Homo sapiens: one gene and its partners. The protein of the gene in region 1 interacts with the protein of each later gene in a pairwise test. Each region holds a gene or a part of one and is shown on either strand. Other genes may lie near its edges.

What was found. The genes of interacting proteins can lie anywhere in the genome.
Region 2: the proteins of CEP44 (region 1) and CCDC185 interact in binary tests that used the Homo sapiens proteins (3 or more experiments, as listed by UniProt).
Region 3: the proteins of CEP44 (region 1) and CEP57L1 interact in binary tests that used the Homo sapiens proteins (3 or more experiments, as listed by UniProt).
Region 4: the proteins of CEP44 (region 1) and CBY2 interact in binary tests that used the Homo sapiens proteins (3 or more experiments, as listed by UniProt).

What each region holds. Positions count from the first base shown.
Region 1 is NC_000004.12:174,286,911-174,290,410, reverse strand, and holds part of CEP44 (centrosomal protein of 44 kDa), read right to left. Parts: intron 1-3,500. UniProt on the Homo sapiens protein: Centriole-enriched microtubule-binding protein involved in centriole biogenesis. In collaboration with CEP295 and POC1B, is required for the centriole-to-centrosome conversion by ensuring the formation of bona fide centriole wall.
Region 2 is NC_000001.11:223,392,261-223,395,965, reverse strand, and holds CCDC185 (coiled-coil domain-containing protein 185), read right to left. Parts: upstream 2,552-3,705; 5' UTR 2,491-2,551; coding exon 619-2,490; 3' UTR 501-618; downstream 1-500.
Region 3 is NC_000006.12:109,098,507-109,102,006, reverse strand, and holds part of CEP57L1 (centrosomal protein CEP57L1), read right to left. Parts: intron 1,816-3,500; exon of another isoform or gene 1,721-1,815; intron 1-1,720. UniProt on the Homo sapiens protein: Centrosomal protein which may be required for microtubule attachment to centrosomes.
Region 4 is NC_000013.11:45,712,320-45,715,059, reverse strand, and holds the end of CBY2 (protein chibby homolog 2), read right to left. Parts: intron 1,879-2,740; coding exon 688-1,878; 3' UTR 501-687; downstream 1-500.

The DNA.
Region 1 (3,500 bases):
CTAAACATTTTGTCTGATCACGAGGGAATGAAACTAGAAATCAATAATAGAAAGAAAATGGAAAAATTCACAAATACAGGGGAATTAAATAACATACTATTAAATAATACTGGGTCAAAGAATAAATCAAAACAGAAATTATAAAATATCTCAAGACAAACAATAATAAAAACACAGTATACCCAAACATATAGGATGCAGTAAAAGCAGAATAAGAGAAGTGTTTATAGCAATAAATTCATTAAGAAGAAGAAAGAGGCAGGACACAGTGGCTCACGCCTATAATCCTAGCACTTTTGGGGGCTGAGGCAGGCGGGTCACTAGGTCAAGAGATTGAGACCATCCTGGCTAACATGGTGAAACCCCATCTCTACAAAAAATACAAAAATTAGCTGAGCATGGTGGTGCGTGGCTCTAGTCCCACCTACTTGGGACTCCCACCTACTCGGGAGGCTGAGGCAGGAGAATCACTTGAACCCGGGAGGCGGAGGTTGCAGTAAGCCAAGATCATCACGCCACTGCACTCCAGCCTGGTGACAGAGCAAGACTCTGTCTCAAAGAAAAAAAAAAAAAGGTCTCAATAAAACAACCTAACTTTACACCTCAAGGAACTAGAAAAAGAACAAACTAAATCCAAAATTAGCAGAAGGAAGAAAATAATAAAGATTAGATTAGAAATAAATGAAATAGAAAATTGAAAAACAATTTTAAAAATTGACAAAACTAAAAGTTCCTCTTTTGAAAAGACAAACTAAATCAACAAATCCTTGGCTAGACTTTAAAAATAGAAGACTCAAACAAAATCAGAAATGAAAGAGGACACAATTGATCCCACAGATATAAAAAGTATCATAAGGGACTATTATGAACAATTATATGCCATCAAATTGGACAATCTAAAAAAAAATGGGTAAATTCCTAGAAAAATATAACTTACCAAGACTGAATCAAGAAGAAATAGAATGCTTGAATAGACAAATAACAAAAAAGGAGATTGATGGAATAATCAAAAAATTCCCAACAAAGAAAAGCCAAGAGCCAGATACATTCTAGCAAACATTTAAAGAAAAATTAATACAAAACCTTATTAAACATATCTAAAAAAAAAAAAAAAAGAAGAGGGAACACTTCCAAAGTCATTCTGAGGCCTGCATCACCCTGATACCAAAGCCAGACAAATACACTACAAGAAAACTACAGTCTAATACATTTGATGAATATAGACGTAAAAATCCTCAATGAAATGTTAGCAAACCAAACACAACAGCACATTAAAAGAATCATATACCATGACCAAGTAGGATTTTTCATTGTGATGCAAGGATGGTTCAACATATGACAACCAACCAATGTAATATACTGCATTAATAGAATGAAGGATAAAACTCACATGGGCATCTGCACAGATGCAGAAAAAGCACTTGACAAAATTCGATACTCTTTTGTGATAAAAACTCCCAATAAACTAGGTATGGAAGAACCTTATAGCAAATTAGGTAAAGGAAAAACAAAATAAAGTCCATTTATGAGAAGCCCACAGCTAAGATACTTAAAGATAAAAAACTGAAAGCTTTCCCCATAAGATGAGGAACAAGGCAAGGTTGCCTACTTTAGCCTCTCCTATTCAGCGTAGTATTTTAAGTCCTAGCCAGAATAACTAGGTAAGAAAAATAAATTAAAAACATCCAAATAAAAAGAGAAGAGGTACAATATCTGTTTGCAGATGACATGATCTTAGATGTAGAAAACCTTAGGGACCCCAACAAAAATGTGAGAATAAACAAATTTGCCTTTAAAAAAGAAGGAAATCCTGCCATTTGCAACAACATGGATGAACCTGAAGGACATTATGCTAAGTGAAATAAGCTAAACACAAAAAGACAAATACTGTATTATCTCAATGTATGTGAAATCTAAAATAGTCAAATACATGCAAGCAGAGAATAGAATGGTGGTTGTAAGGGAACATGGGGAGAACAAAATGGGAAGCTGTTGTTCAAAGGGTACAAAGTTTCAGTTAGGCAAAATAAATAAGATCTGCAGGTACAACCCAGTGTCTGTGATTAGCAATATTGTATTCTTAAAATTTTGCTAAGAAGTTAGATCTAATGTTAAGTGCTCTTATCACAAAACGTGAAAAAAAGATGAGTAGAAGGAAACTTTTCAAGGTGATGGCATTGATTTCTTGTAGTAATAATGGTTGGATGGTTTCACAATATCTACTTATCTCCAAACAGAAACTGTATACATTAAATGTCTATAGCTTTCTGTATGTCAATCATACCGCAATAAACAGGTTAAAAAATGAAGCAGCACCAGATCCCTGTACACACACCTCTAAAAATAGTCCCTTTGTATATAAAGCACCCCAAATTTTCTCCTTCTGAGTGTGTTATCTACTTAATTAAGGGCCTGGACTACAAAATCCAAGTTTTCACTTTTCACCCAAAGTTTTCCATTCTCACACACAGAATTTTCTCGTTCAGTTAGCAGATGCAAGAAGAGAATTTCAGATATTAGCTTTAAATACTACATTCTTGTCTATACCTGGTATTACTAGCTCTACCTAATTCATTTTCTTTCTTACCATGAAATTATAGAAACAAAAAGGTTACTGCAAAACACTTATAAACATATTGTCAGCATGAAATAATTATAATTATCCTATAATAAATTGTACCTTTTGAACAATTTTGGTCACTTTTTGATCTTCGTGTATTAATAAGTTAATACATGTAAATCATAACCAGAAGGGAAAATCAAAACATTCCACTTACCAAGTAATGATGAAAAAGAGAATGTGTGTGATTTAGTTAATTTAAAATATTATAGAAAGCAACAAATAACAGAAATGGTATCTGGGATAAAGTTCCTGGACCTGGATAAGGATGTTTGGTGATATCTCAAGCTGTTCAACACCTTTGCACATGCCATTTCTTCAAGCTTGAAGAGATACAGAGCAACTCCTTCCCTCTCCCATTCTCCATCTGGCTAATACCCCTCGGCATCCTGCTTAAATGTCACCACCTCAAATAAGTCTTAGATCCCAAACTAATTAATCCCCCTCATTAATTTTCTCTAATAGACCCAGTTCTTTTCCTTCTTGGTACTTATCATAATAAAGAACCAAAATCTGTGCCAAGGGTCCAAAATAGCACTCTACCTGAAAAGCAACACTTAATCCTTGTCATTTCTCAGCTCTATTTCAGAATGAGCTGGGTTACTACCTGGGGTCCCATAACGACCTATATCCCAATGGCCTAGAAATAGAAGGAATACACCGATTCCCCCTCTTGATGCTGATTCTTCACTTTAATAAGCCACCACCATTGTCAGTCAAGATGTTTTGCACTGTCATCGGTCCCAAACTCCTGCTGGTTAGCCAGCTGTCTACTTCCAAGAAGAAAAGGTGAACACAGAAAAAAAGGCAAGAAATTCAAAATATCTATGCTTTTTACAGAAAGAGTAAATGGTACAATTATTTTGGAAAACTTACTGGT
Region 2 (3,705 bases), on another chromosome or scaffold:
GACTTGGAACCAACCCAAATGTCCAACAATGATAGACTGGATTAAGAAAATGTGGCACATATACACCATGGAATACTATGCAGCCATAAAAAATGATGAGTTCACGTCCTTTGTAGGGACATGGATGAAATTGGAAACCATCATTCTCAGTAAACTATCGCAAGAACAACAAACCAAACACCGCATATTCTCACTCATAGGTGGGAATTGAACAATGAGATCACATGGACACAGGAAGGGGAATATCACACTCTGGGGACTGTGGTGGGGAGGGGGGAGGGGGGAGGGATAGCATTGGGAGATATACCTAATGCTAGATGACGAGTTAGTGGGTGCAGCGCACCAGCATGGCACATGTATACATATGTAACTAACCTGTACAATGTGCACATGTACCCTAAAACTTAAAGTATAATTTAAAAAAACAAAAATTCCCAAAATTTTCTCTCCGACCCTCTAAACTATCCAAGTGAATCAATAAACCAGTTCATGAGAGGAAATTGCAGCTATTTTACATGCTTTTTTAAAATCAATGTTCAATTATAATCAGATTACAAAAGGAATCACATTGCCACATCTCCTTCTGGCTGCGCACTGTAAGCCAGGCGTCCTTGGTTCTCAGTAACCCCTGTTCTGCTGACAGGCACGGAGCTGGGCCTCTAGTACCATCTGATCAAGGGAGCTGTTGGGAGGCGCTCTCTCCTCTCTCCTGGAGGCCTGAGGGAGCTTCTGGAACTCCTGGAAGTTTGGGTCTTTCCCTTGGGAAATGTGCTGCACCCTCTGCTCCTTTTTCTTAATGGCCTCCTTGATGCCCTCAATGTGACACTTTTCCTCCTTCTCGGCTTTCAGTTTCAGGATGTGGTGGTTTTTCTCCCTCAGGTGGTTGAGCTCCCGGAGGTGCTGCACCTTGTCCCTAGTGGTCTTGTGCACGTGACTCCTGGCCTGTCGGATCTTCTCATCCGCCAGCTCCACCAGAATTCTTTTGCGCATCTTCCTCTGTTCCTCTGACTCCCCTGCGCGCCACCTGGCCTGCTGCAACTGCTCTTCCTCCTTCTGGGCCTTCTCCCTCAGCTCGCGTTGCCGCTCCTTCCTCAGGCCCTGGTGTATCTCCTGGGACCGCTGGAAACTTTGTTCCAGGGACAGCTGCCTAAGGAGCTCCTCAGCCTTGGCCTGGCAGTCCATGAGGACCTTCCGGGCCTGGTAATTGATGAGGGAGCTCAGGTTGGTGTCCTGGACCTTCTTCTGGCCCTCCACGGCATGTAGGTGCCTCTTGCGACAGGCTTCCACCAGCCTCCTCTGCAGCTGCAGGCTGTGCTGCTCCCGGAGGTTCCGTAGCATCTTCTCCTGCTCCCGCAGGCGCCGCACCTGGCACTGTTTTCGGTGCTCTGCCTGGGCGCGCGCCTTCTCCAGCTTCTCCTGGCGCGGGCTCTCCTGGTCCTCTGGTTGCTCCTTCCACCGGCTTTCCCCCGGGGGCACGTTCTTCCTCTGGCTGTCCCGCCGCAGGCCGCGCTGCTCAGGGCTCTGGAGGGTCTTGCGCTGCTCCTTCTCCTGCCACTGCTCCTGGCTCTGCCGCAGCAGCAGCCGGCGCTCCCGCTCCAGGGTCATCTGGACCTTCTGATCCGAGCGCTTCAGCTCCTCCCAGGCCTTAGCCGCCTGCTGCTGCAGCTCCCGTATCCTCTGGGCCTTCTTGAGACGGGTCAGCACCAGGGCCACAATCTGCTGGTCCTGGGAGGACACCACCACCTCTTCCAGCTTGCTCTTCAGGACCTGGGTGTGCGGGCTCCGCATCTCTTTGCTGGAGGCCAAGGGCTGGGAGTCCCGGCTGGCTAATGACTCAACCTGGTCGCTGCTGTCTCTCTTCTGGGCGCACACGCAGGCTGAGTGCCTCTTGAACTTTTGCGAGGGCACAGAAGACCGCTCCGAGGGAACTGAGGAAGGGGACCAGCGACCTAGATGTCTGCCGAGTGGCACTGCCCACTGGTCTCCACCCTGTGCCTTTTCTACCCTGAATGTGCCACTCAGGGGAGTGCCAGCTCCTCCGGGGCAAGGCGGGGGCGAGTCTCCCTGGGCCAGAGGGTAATGCGGGCAGGGCTGCGGCCGCTGGGGTGGCAGCTGGGTCTGCGGCTGCCAAGCCGGGCGGGGCTTGGTTCCTGTCTCTCCCCAGGCATCTTCCAGGCGCCTGCTGCGGGGCCGGTGCTTCCTGGAACGTTCCAGGGGCCTGCGGGCCACATCGCTCAGGCTTCGGCTGCCCCGCAGTGAATCTGAGCACCCGCGCCTGCGAGGCCGCGGGGTGAACGAACAGTGCGGGTGCAGCCAGCACGCCCCAGCTTCGCTCTCCGCACCCGGAGTCCCGGCCCGGGAGCACGCGGTGGAGTCGGCTCCGGACCTCTGCCCGCCCAGCCGCTGCGTGGACTCTCGTTCTCCGCCGGGCCGCGGGGGTTCCCAGAGATCCCGGTAGGGCGGCTGGGAGAAGTGGCTGAAGCCTGCCATCCCTCCCTCTGGGCACGCGCAGCGTCTGCCCAAGGGGCCTGAGACCTCCCGAGGACGCTGCAGACACCCGCCCTGCCCCCCGGTCCCGAGGTCCGGGTCGCCTGTGACGCTCGGGCCACTTCACAATGCGCCTGGCAGCTGGGTCCTCGCAGTCTTCAGACCTTGCCCGGCGCCGCCCACCCCAGCTTTGCTAGCACCCGGAGCACCTGGAATGGGAAGGACAGGAGGCTGGGGATGGGGGTGGTGGGGGTCGGGTGGGGGAGAGAGGGGTTGTATGTTGGAGGAGGGAATATGTAGGAAATCAGGGTGACATTTAAAGCTGAGGGTGCATAGTGTCCCCCACCAGTGTTTCAGGGAGAAATTTGAACTCGCATTTGCACACAAACAGCAGGATTTTAAGAGAGCCCAGGTGAAGGCGTCACCCTCAGAATGGAAGGGGTGGGGAGAAGGGCCGGGGTGCAGTCTCAGGGAGGAGGTACCCTTAGCTGCAGAATCACCGTCCTGCACGTGTGTACCTCTGCAATGTGGTCAAATAGAACGGCTGTGGACGCGACACCACCCATTTGCCTTTTAAGTTAGCAAGCCCAAAGTATGCTTTAATGTTTACTTTTTAAGATTTTTAGAAAAGGTAGAAGACGACTCTATTTCCTAATATGGTAATTACTGCTTTTGTCAAAATGTGAATGCTGCGTGCACATTTCTGCAATAGCATTAGTGAACACCATGTTGAAATCACATTTTTTTTTCCCTTTTCCTCCAATTTTGTGGGATTCTCGTTCCTTGTTGAGGCACCCTTGGCTAATGGGAAAAGCACTGGATCTGGTAGAGAAAAAGAATTTGAATCTCCTCTACCACTCTTCACTCATGGGCTCTTGGGCAAATTCCCTAAGTTTCCCTGACCTCCAGTTCCAGCAAGGTGGAATGGGAAGTGGGGCCTCATCATATGGGCATTGCAGGACTGTTGTGAGGGTCAGATGAAATTATGCATCCAGAGGTTGGCACCAGAATACATTCAATAAATATTATTTTGGTGCCATGCTAAGCGTCAGTTAAAAGTTTTAAGGGTTGGGCTGGGTGGTGGCTCATGCCTGTAATCCTAGCATGTTGGGAAGGCAAGGCAGGAGGATTCCTTGAGCCCAGGACTTAGACCAGTCTGGGCAACATAGAGAGATCCTGCTTCTATATAAAAATTTTAAAAATTAGCTGGACATGGTG
Region 3 (3,500 bases), on another chromosome or scaffold:
AATCCTGGCAAAGGTGGGGCGCAACAGGAACTCTCATTCATTGGTGGGAAATAGAAAATGGTACTGCTGCTTTGAAAAACAGCTGTATGGCTGGGCGCGGTGGCTCACGCCTATAATCCCAGCACTTTGGGAGGCCGAGGCGGGCGGATCACGAGATCAGGAGATCGAGACCATCTTGGCTAACACGGTGAAACCCCGTCTCTACTAAAAATACAAAACATTAGCCGGGCGCGGTGGCGGGCGCCTGTAATCCCAGCTACTCAGGAGGCTGAGGCAGGAGAATGGCGTGAACCCGGCAGCGGAGTTTGCAGTGAGCCGAGATGGCGCCACTGCAGTCCAGCCTGTGCGAAAGAGTGAGACTCCGTCTCAAAAAAAAAAAAAAAGAAAAAAGAAAAAGAAAAACAGCTGTGAGTTTCTTACAAAGCTAAACATAGGGTTACCTGAGATCCAGCAATCATATTCCTAGATGAGTTAAAAATTTTTTGCCCAGAAAAAGCCTGCACATAAATTTTTAGGACACTTTATTCATAATTGATAAAAACTGGAAGCAACTAAGATGTCCTTCAAAAGGTGAATAAGCAAACTGTGATATATCCATACAATGGATTATTTTTCAGTGATAAAAACAAATGAGCTCCCAAGCCATACATATAAAGACATAAAATAACTATAAATGCACATTGCTAAGTAAAGGAGCCAGTCTAAAAGGCAACATACTGCATGATTCCATGGTCCATGACCAAAGTTAGCAAAACCTCTCAATATCTGTTCCCTAATTAATTACTCTTCTAAAATGTAACTGTGAAAATTTACTGATCTAAAGAAGTTCTTCTAAATTCCATAACATCTATTGATATGTTGCAGCAAAAAAGGCAGACTGTTTTGTTTTGTTTTTTTCCTAAGACAGAGTCATACTCTGTCGCCCAGACTGGAGTGCAGTGGTGCGATCTTGGCTCACTGCAACCTCTGCCTCCCAGGCTCAGGCGATTCTCCTGCCTCAGCCTCCTGAGTAGTTGGGACTAGAGGCGTGTGCCATGATGCCTGGCTAATTTTTGTACTTTTAGTAGAGATGGACTTTCACCATGTTGGCCAGGATGGTCTCGAACTTCTGACCTCAGGTGATCCACCTGCCTCAGCCTCCCAAAGTGCTGGGATTACAGGTGTGAGCCACCATGCCCAGCCAAAAAGCAGACATTATGAATATAAGAACTCTGAATTAAACAATGTGAAACTGTATCACATTAAATAAAATTTTATGTGACCAGTAATTACATTTCCTAGGCTACAGATTCTGTAAACTTTCTTTCTTTCTTCTTTTTTTTTTTTTTTTTTTTGAGACAATCTCACTCTGTCACTCAGGCTAGAGTGCAATGGAACGATCTCAGCTCACTGCAACCTCTGCCTCCTGGGTTCAAGCGATTCTCCTGCCTCAGCCTCCCAAGTAGCTGGAATTACAGGCGCCCACCACCACGCCTGGCTAATTTTTGTATTTTCAGTAGAGACGGGGTTTCACCATCTTGGCCGAGCTGGTCTCAAACTCCTGACCTCAAGTGATCGGCCCACCTCAGCCTCCCAAAGTGCTAGGATTATAGGCATAAGCCACTGTGCCCGGCTTTGTTTTTTTTAGGACGAACTTTCTAAAATGTTTTTATTATAATGTACCCTCGTCCATCCATTAATTACTTTGTGTTTTTGTAAATGATAGATAAATATGCCATACCTTTGAAAGTTCTGTGGCATTATATCATTCTTCCATTCATTCATTCCTTTATTCTTGCGTCACACATTTATTAAGTTTGTACTAGGTACCAGGCACTGTACTCAGAGGTAGAGATAAGATGATCAACAAAAACAAGCACAGTAGTTCCTCTTGTGTGCTTAAGCTCTACTGAAATAAACACACTTTAATCAAATCATGGCACAACTGCAAAACTAATTGGTAACATAAGAGCAACTCAAGGTTTACGGTGCAATAGGTCTATTTACAAGAAGAGTATTTAATTAGATCAGGGACACCTCTGAGAAAATGATTATTTGAGCAAAGACCTGCAAGAAGAGGAGTTAAAGACAGGCTAGAACAATCTGGACAAAGAACACAGTAAAAGAGTGCTGCATCCATACTCGCTGTCTCCCATACTCTACTAAATAAAAGTACCCATTGTTGGGCACGGTGGCTCACGCCTGTAATCCCAGCACTTTGGGAGGCCGAGGCGGGTGGATCACGAGGTCAGGAGATCGAGACCATCCTGCCCAACATGGTGAAACCCTGTCTCTACTAAAAATACAAAAATTAGCCGGGCATGGTGGCGGGTGTCTGTAGTCCCAGCTACTCAGGAGGCTGAGGCAGGAGAATCACTTGAACCTGGGAGGCGGAGCTTGCAATAAGCCGAGATAGCGCCACTGCACTCCAGCCTGGGCAACAAGAGCAAAAACTCCTTCTCAAAAATAAATAAATAAATAAAAATAAATAAATAAATAAAAGTACCCATCTGGCTTTTGTACCCTTTACTCCACCAAAAGTTTCTTATCAAGATCCCAATGACCTCCATGTTGCTAAATGTACTGGTCAATTATGAATCCTCATCTCATTTGACCTACAGCAACATTTAACATAACTTATTTTTCCTTCCTCCTTAATTACTTTCTTCATTTTGCTTCTAGAACACCTACTGAACAGTGGGTTTTTCTCTGCTCACTGGCTGCTCCTTCAGTCACCTTTGCAGAGAACTCCAAATCCACCCAAACTCCATAGAATATCACTTTTGGTGATATCAACAACTCCTATCAAAACACTACTATAAAATCCAAAATTATATCTATTGCCAGATCTTTCTCCTCACTTCTGGACTCATTTATTCAACTGCCTCCTCCACCTCCACATCTCAATGTGAATTTCTTAGAGGCATCTCAAACTTAACGTGGCCAAGCTAAAATACCAACCTTTCCTCTCTCTCCCATTCACAAATCTGCAGATTTTCCCATAATAGTAAATGGCACTTCCTCCATTCTAGTTACTCAGGTTAGAAACTTTGAAGCCATTTTTGACTCTTACTCTCACACAATCTGTCAGCAAAGTCTGTTGGCTATACTATCAAAATGTATCCAGATTCTGTCACCTGGATTATTACTTTAGTTTCCTAACCAGTCTCTCTGCTTCCACCCTTGCTTCCCTATGGTCTATGCTCAACACAATTTAAAAGAAATATTCACTTCAGGCCAGTTGCAGTGGGTTATGCCTCTAATCTCAGCACTTTGGGAGGCTGAGGCAGGAGGATCACTTGAGGCAATCACTTGAGGAGTTCAAGACCAGCCTGGGCAACACAGTGAGATCCTGTCTCTACAAAAAGACAAAAATTATCTCAGTTATGTAATTTCAGTTAAAAAAAAAAAGGAAAAAATACAAAATTAGCTGGGCTTGTTGGCACGTGCCTGTAGTCCCAACTACCTGGGAGACTGAGGTGGGAGGATTACTTGAGCCCAGGAGTTCAAGGATGCAGTGA
Region 4 (2,740 bases), on another chromosome or scaffold:
TCCACACTTGGCGATTCCAACTATATGACATTCTGAAAAAAGCAAAACTATGAAGACTGTAAAAAAGATCAGTGGTGGCCAGAGGCTGGAGGGGGAGGGAGGGATGAACAGGCAGAGCACAGAGGATTTTTAGCGCAATGAAAATACTCTATATGGTACTACATATACTCTATAATACTCTATATGGTACTACAATGGTGGCTACATGTCACTATGCATTTGATCAAACCCACAGAATGTACAACACCAGCAGCAAACCCTAATACAAACTTACGGACTTTGGAATAATTATGTGTCAATGTAGGTTCAAAGACTGTCACTAGTGTACCTCTCTGGAGGGATGGTGATAATGCGGGAGATTATGCATTTGTGGGACGGGAGTCTATGGGAACTCCCTGTACTTTCTGCTCAGTTTAGCTGTGAACCCAAAACTGCTCTAAAATATTGTCTATCTTTTATTAAAAGAAAGAAAGAAAGAAAGAAAGAAAAAGGCAGCATGCTGGTGTCAACTGGCCCCAGCCTCCTCACACCTTTATTAAAACTCTGAGTTTAGGAAGGCTGCTAACGCTGCTTTTCAATAGGTACGAACTGGCTGGGGAAGGCGAGGACGACAAAGGAAGGCAGGGGATTCTCTTTTGCCCAGTGTTCGGTGTCCCAAACTCGGCGTCCCGGTGCAAGGCCGAGGCCTCAGACCCTGCTAGGCTTCTTGGGGTCCTGGCTCCTGGCCGGCATGAAGGCGTAGAGCTCCTCGATGAGCATTTCCATGCGCGCGGTGACCTCGGTCACGGTGTCAATGACCAGCTTCTGCTGCAGCTTCAGCTTGTTGTTCTCCCACAGGGCCTTGTTCTCCTCCTGGAAGCCCCTGTGCTCTGCCCGTAGCACCTGCAGGGTCCTGTTCTCCTCCTGCAGGAGCCGGTTCTCCTTGAGCAGGGCCTGCAGCGCCTGCCTCATCTCTCTCAGCAGCTGCAGGGGCTGGCAGCCGTCGGGCAGGCCCGGGCCCACCTTGGCCTCCTCCTCCCCGGAGGGCCCGGACATGTTGCTGACCATCTTCCGCAGGGCGCGCAGCTCCTTGGAGTCCTCCTGCCGGGCCGGAGGCCCTTTGGGCTCCTCGAAGCGGGAGGAGAGGCCGGAGCCCTGGTCCTGCAGCAGCCCGGGGCTGCAGGGCTCCTCGTGGGGTGAGGGGGCGGGCTTGCTTTCCTCGGCAGGGGCGGCCGTGTCCTCTGCCTGCGCCCAGTAGGCCTGTTTCTGCTCCAGCAGCTGCTGCAGCGCGCGATTCTCCTCCCGGAGGAGCTGCAGGGTGCTGTCCTCCTTGCCACGGGGCACCTGCAGGGCGACGTGGTCCTTCTTCACCACCTCCAGGGACGCGCTGTCTTTGTGCAGCAGTGGCGAGGGGGCCCGGCTCTCCTCTCGGCCCAGCGAGGCCTTGTGCTCCTCCCAGAAGACCTGTAGGATCTTGTTCTCCTTGCTGAGCATCCGGTTCTCCTCGCGCAGGGCCTTGTTCTCCTCCCGCAGAGACTTGTTCTCCTCCTGCAGCATGCACTCCTTGGCCAGCCTCTTGTGGTGCAGCTTGTGGTGGAAGGAGGCGGATGGGGAGAAGTAGGGAGACTGCAGGCGGCAGTTCTCATTTACCCAGCGCCCGTCCTGGAACACGAACATCTCGTCGCTGAGCTGCACCCGCGGCGGGTTGTAGTCCAGCTCCAGGTCGGCCTGGGACATGGGGCGCTCCATGGGGTCTAAAGGCACGGAGGAGAAGCGGTTCAGTGGATAGGAGTGCTGGCTCGCCATCCTGCGGCTCAGCCGGGGCAGGGCGGCCTGCTGCGCGCAGCGAGGGGTGCTGTACAAGTTGTGGAGCCTCGGGAAGGGTTCGGCTGTGCCCCTCTGCGGGAGAGAATGGGAAAGCCCAGCGTTAACGATGGGACTGACACACTTGGGGCTGGCTGACAAAGGGGCCAGGACATCCCCAAATAAGCCCCGTCTGATTGTCTGGCCTGGCCACAGTGGGCGCTTTTGCTTCTTGGGGTCCTCACAAGGAAATGTGGCCTATCCTTGTCATTCCAGTGAGTTCTGTTCTATGAAGTCAGTTCCAATACTGAATTAGCAAATATAGAACCATTGCTCCTACAGGAAATAGAGGGCTATGTTCCTGTGAGCCTGTGGTCACAGTTTTGTCAACCAAGCAATACATAACCTCATTTAGTGCGTATTGTTGATTCATTAACATCAAATTCACGTCAGCAGCACTGTCACGCATGCCCAAACAAAACTTCTCTAACACATGTGTTTTCTCCATGTGGCACAGCATAGCCTTCTTGTGATTGGGAATACTAGACAGCACTTGACTTGGAATGGTACAGAAGCCATTTTTAACAGCAAAATCACCAACAAAATGCACAAGAAGGCAAAACAAAAAAAGTGGCACTAGATAGACTGCGCAATGGACACTATTTTCTAGCCTGAGAGCTGAAACAAGAAGGCTCCTTGGCTGGGGACTCAACTTCACACAACTCAAATTTTCACCTCTCCGTGCATGTCTGAGAATTACCATAAAAGTGCTACAAGTATTGATTTGGTGGATACACATTTTAGCAAGTAGGCAAATTCACAAATATGGAATCCGTGAATAATAAGAAACAGTTATATATTATGGTGGTCAAAGGCATTCATTTTAGAGTCAACCAAATATTTTGAGTCTTTGCCTCACTACTTACCAATTAACAAGAATTTGAGCAAGTTATTTGAG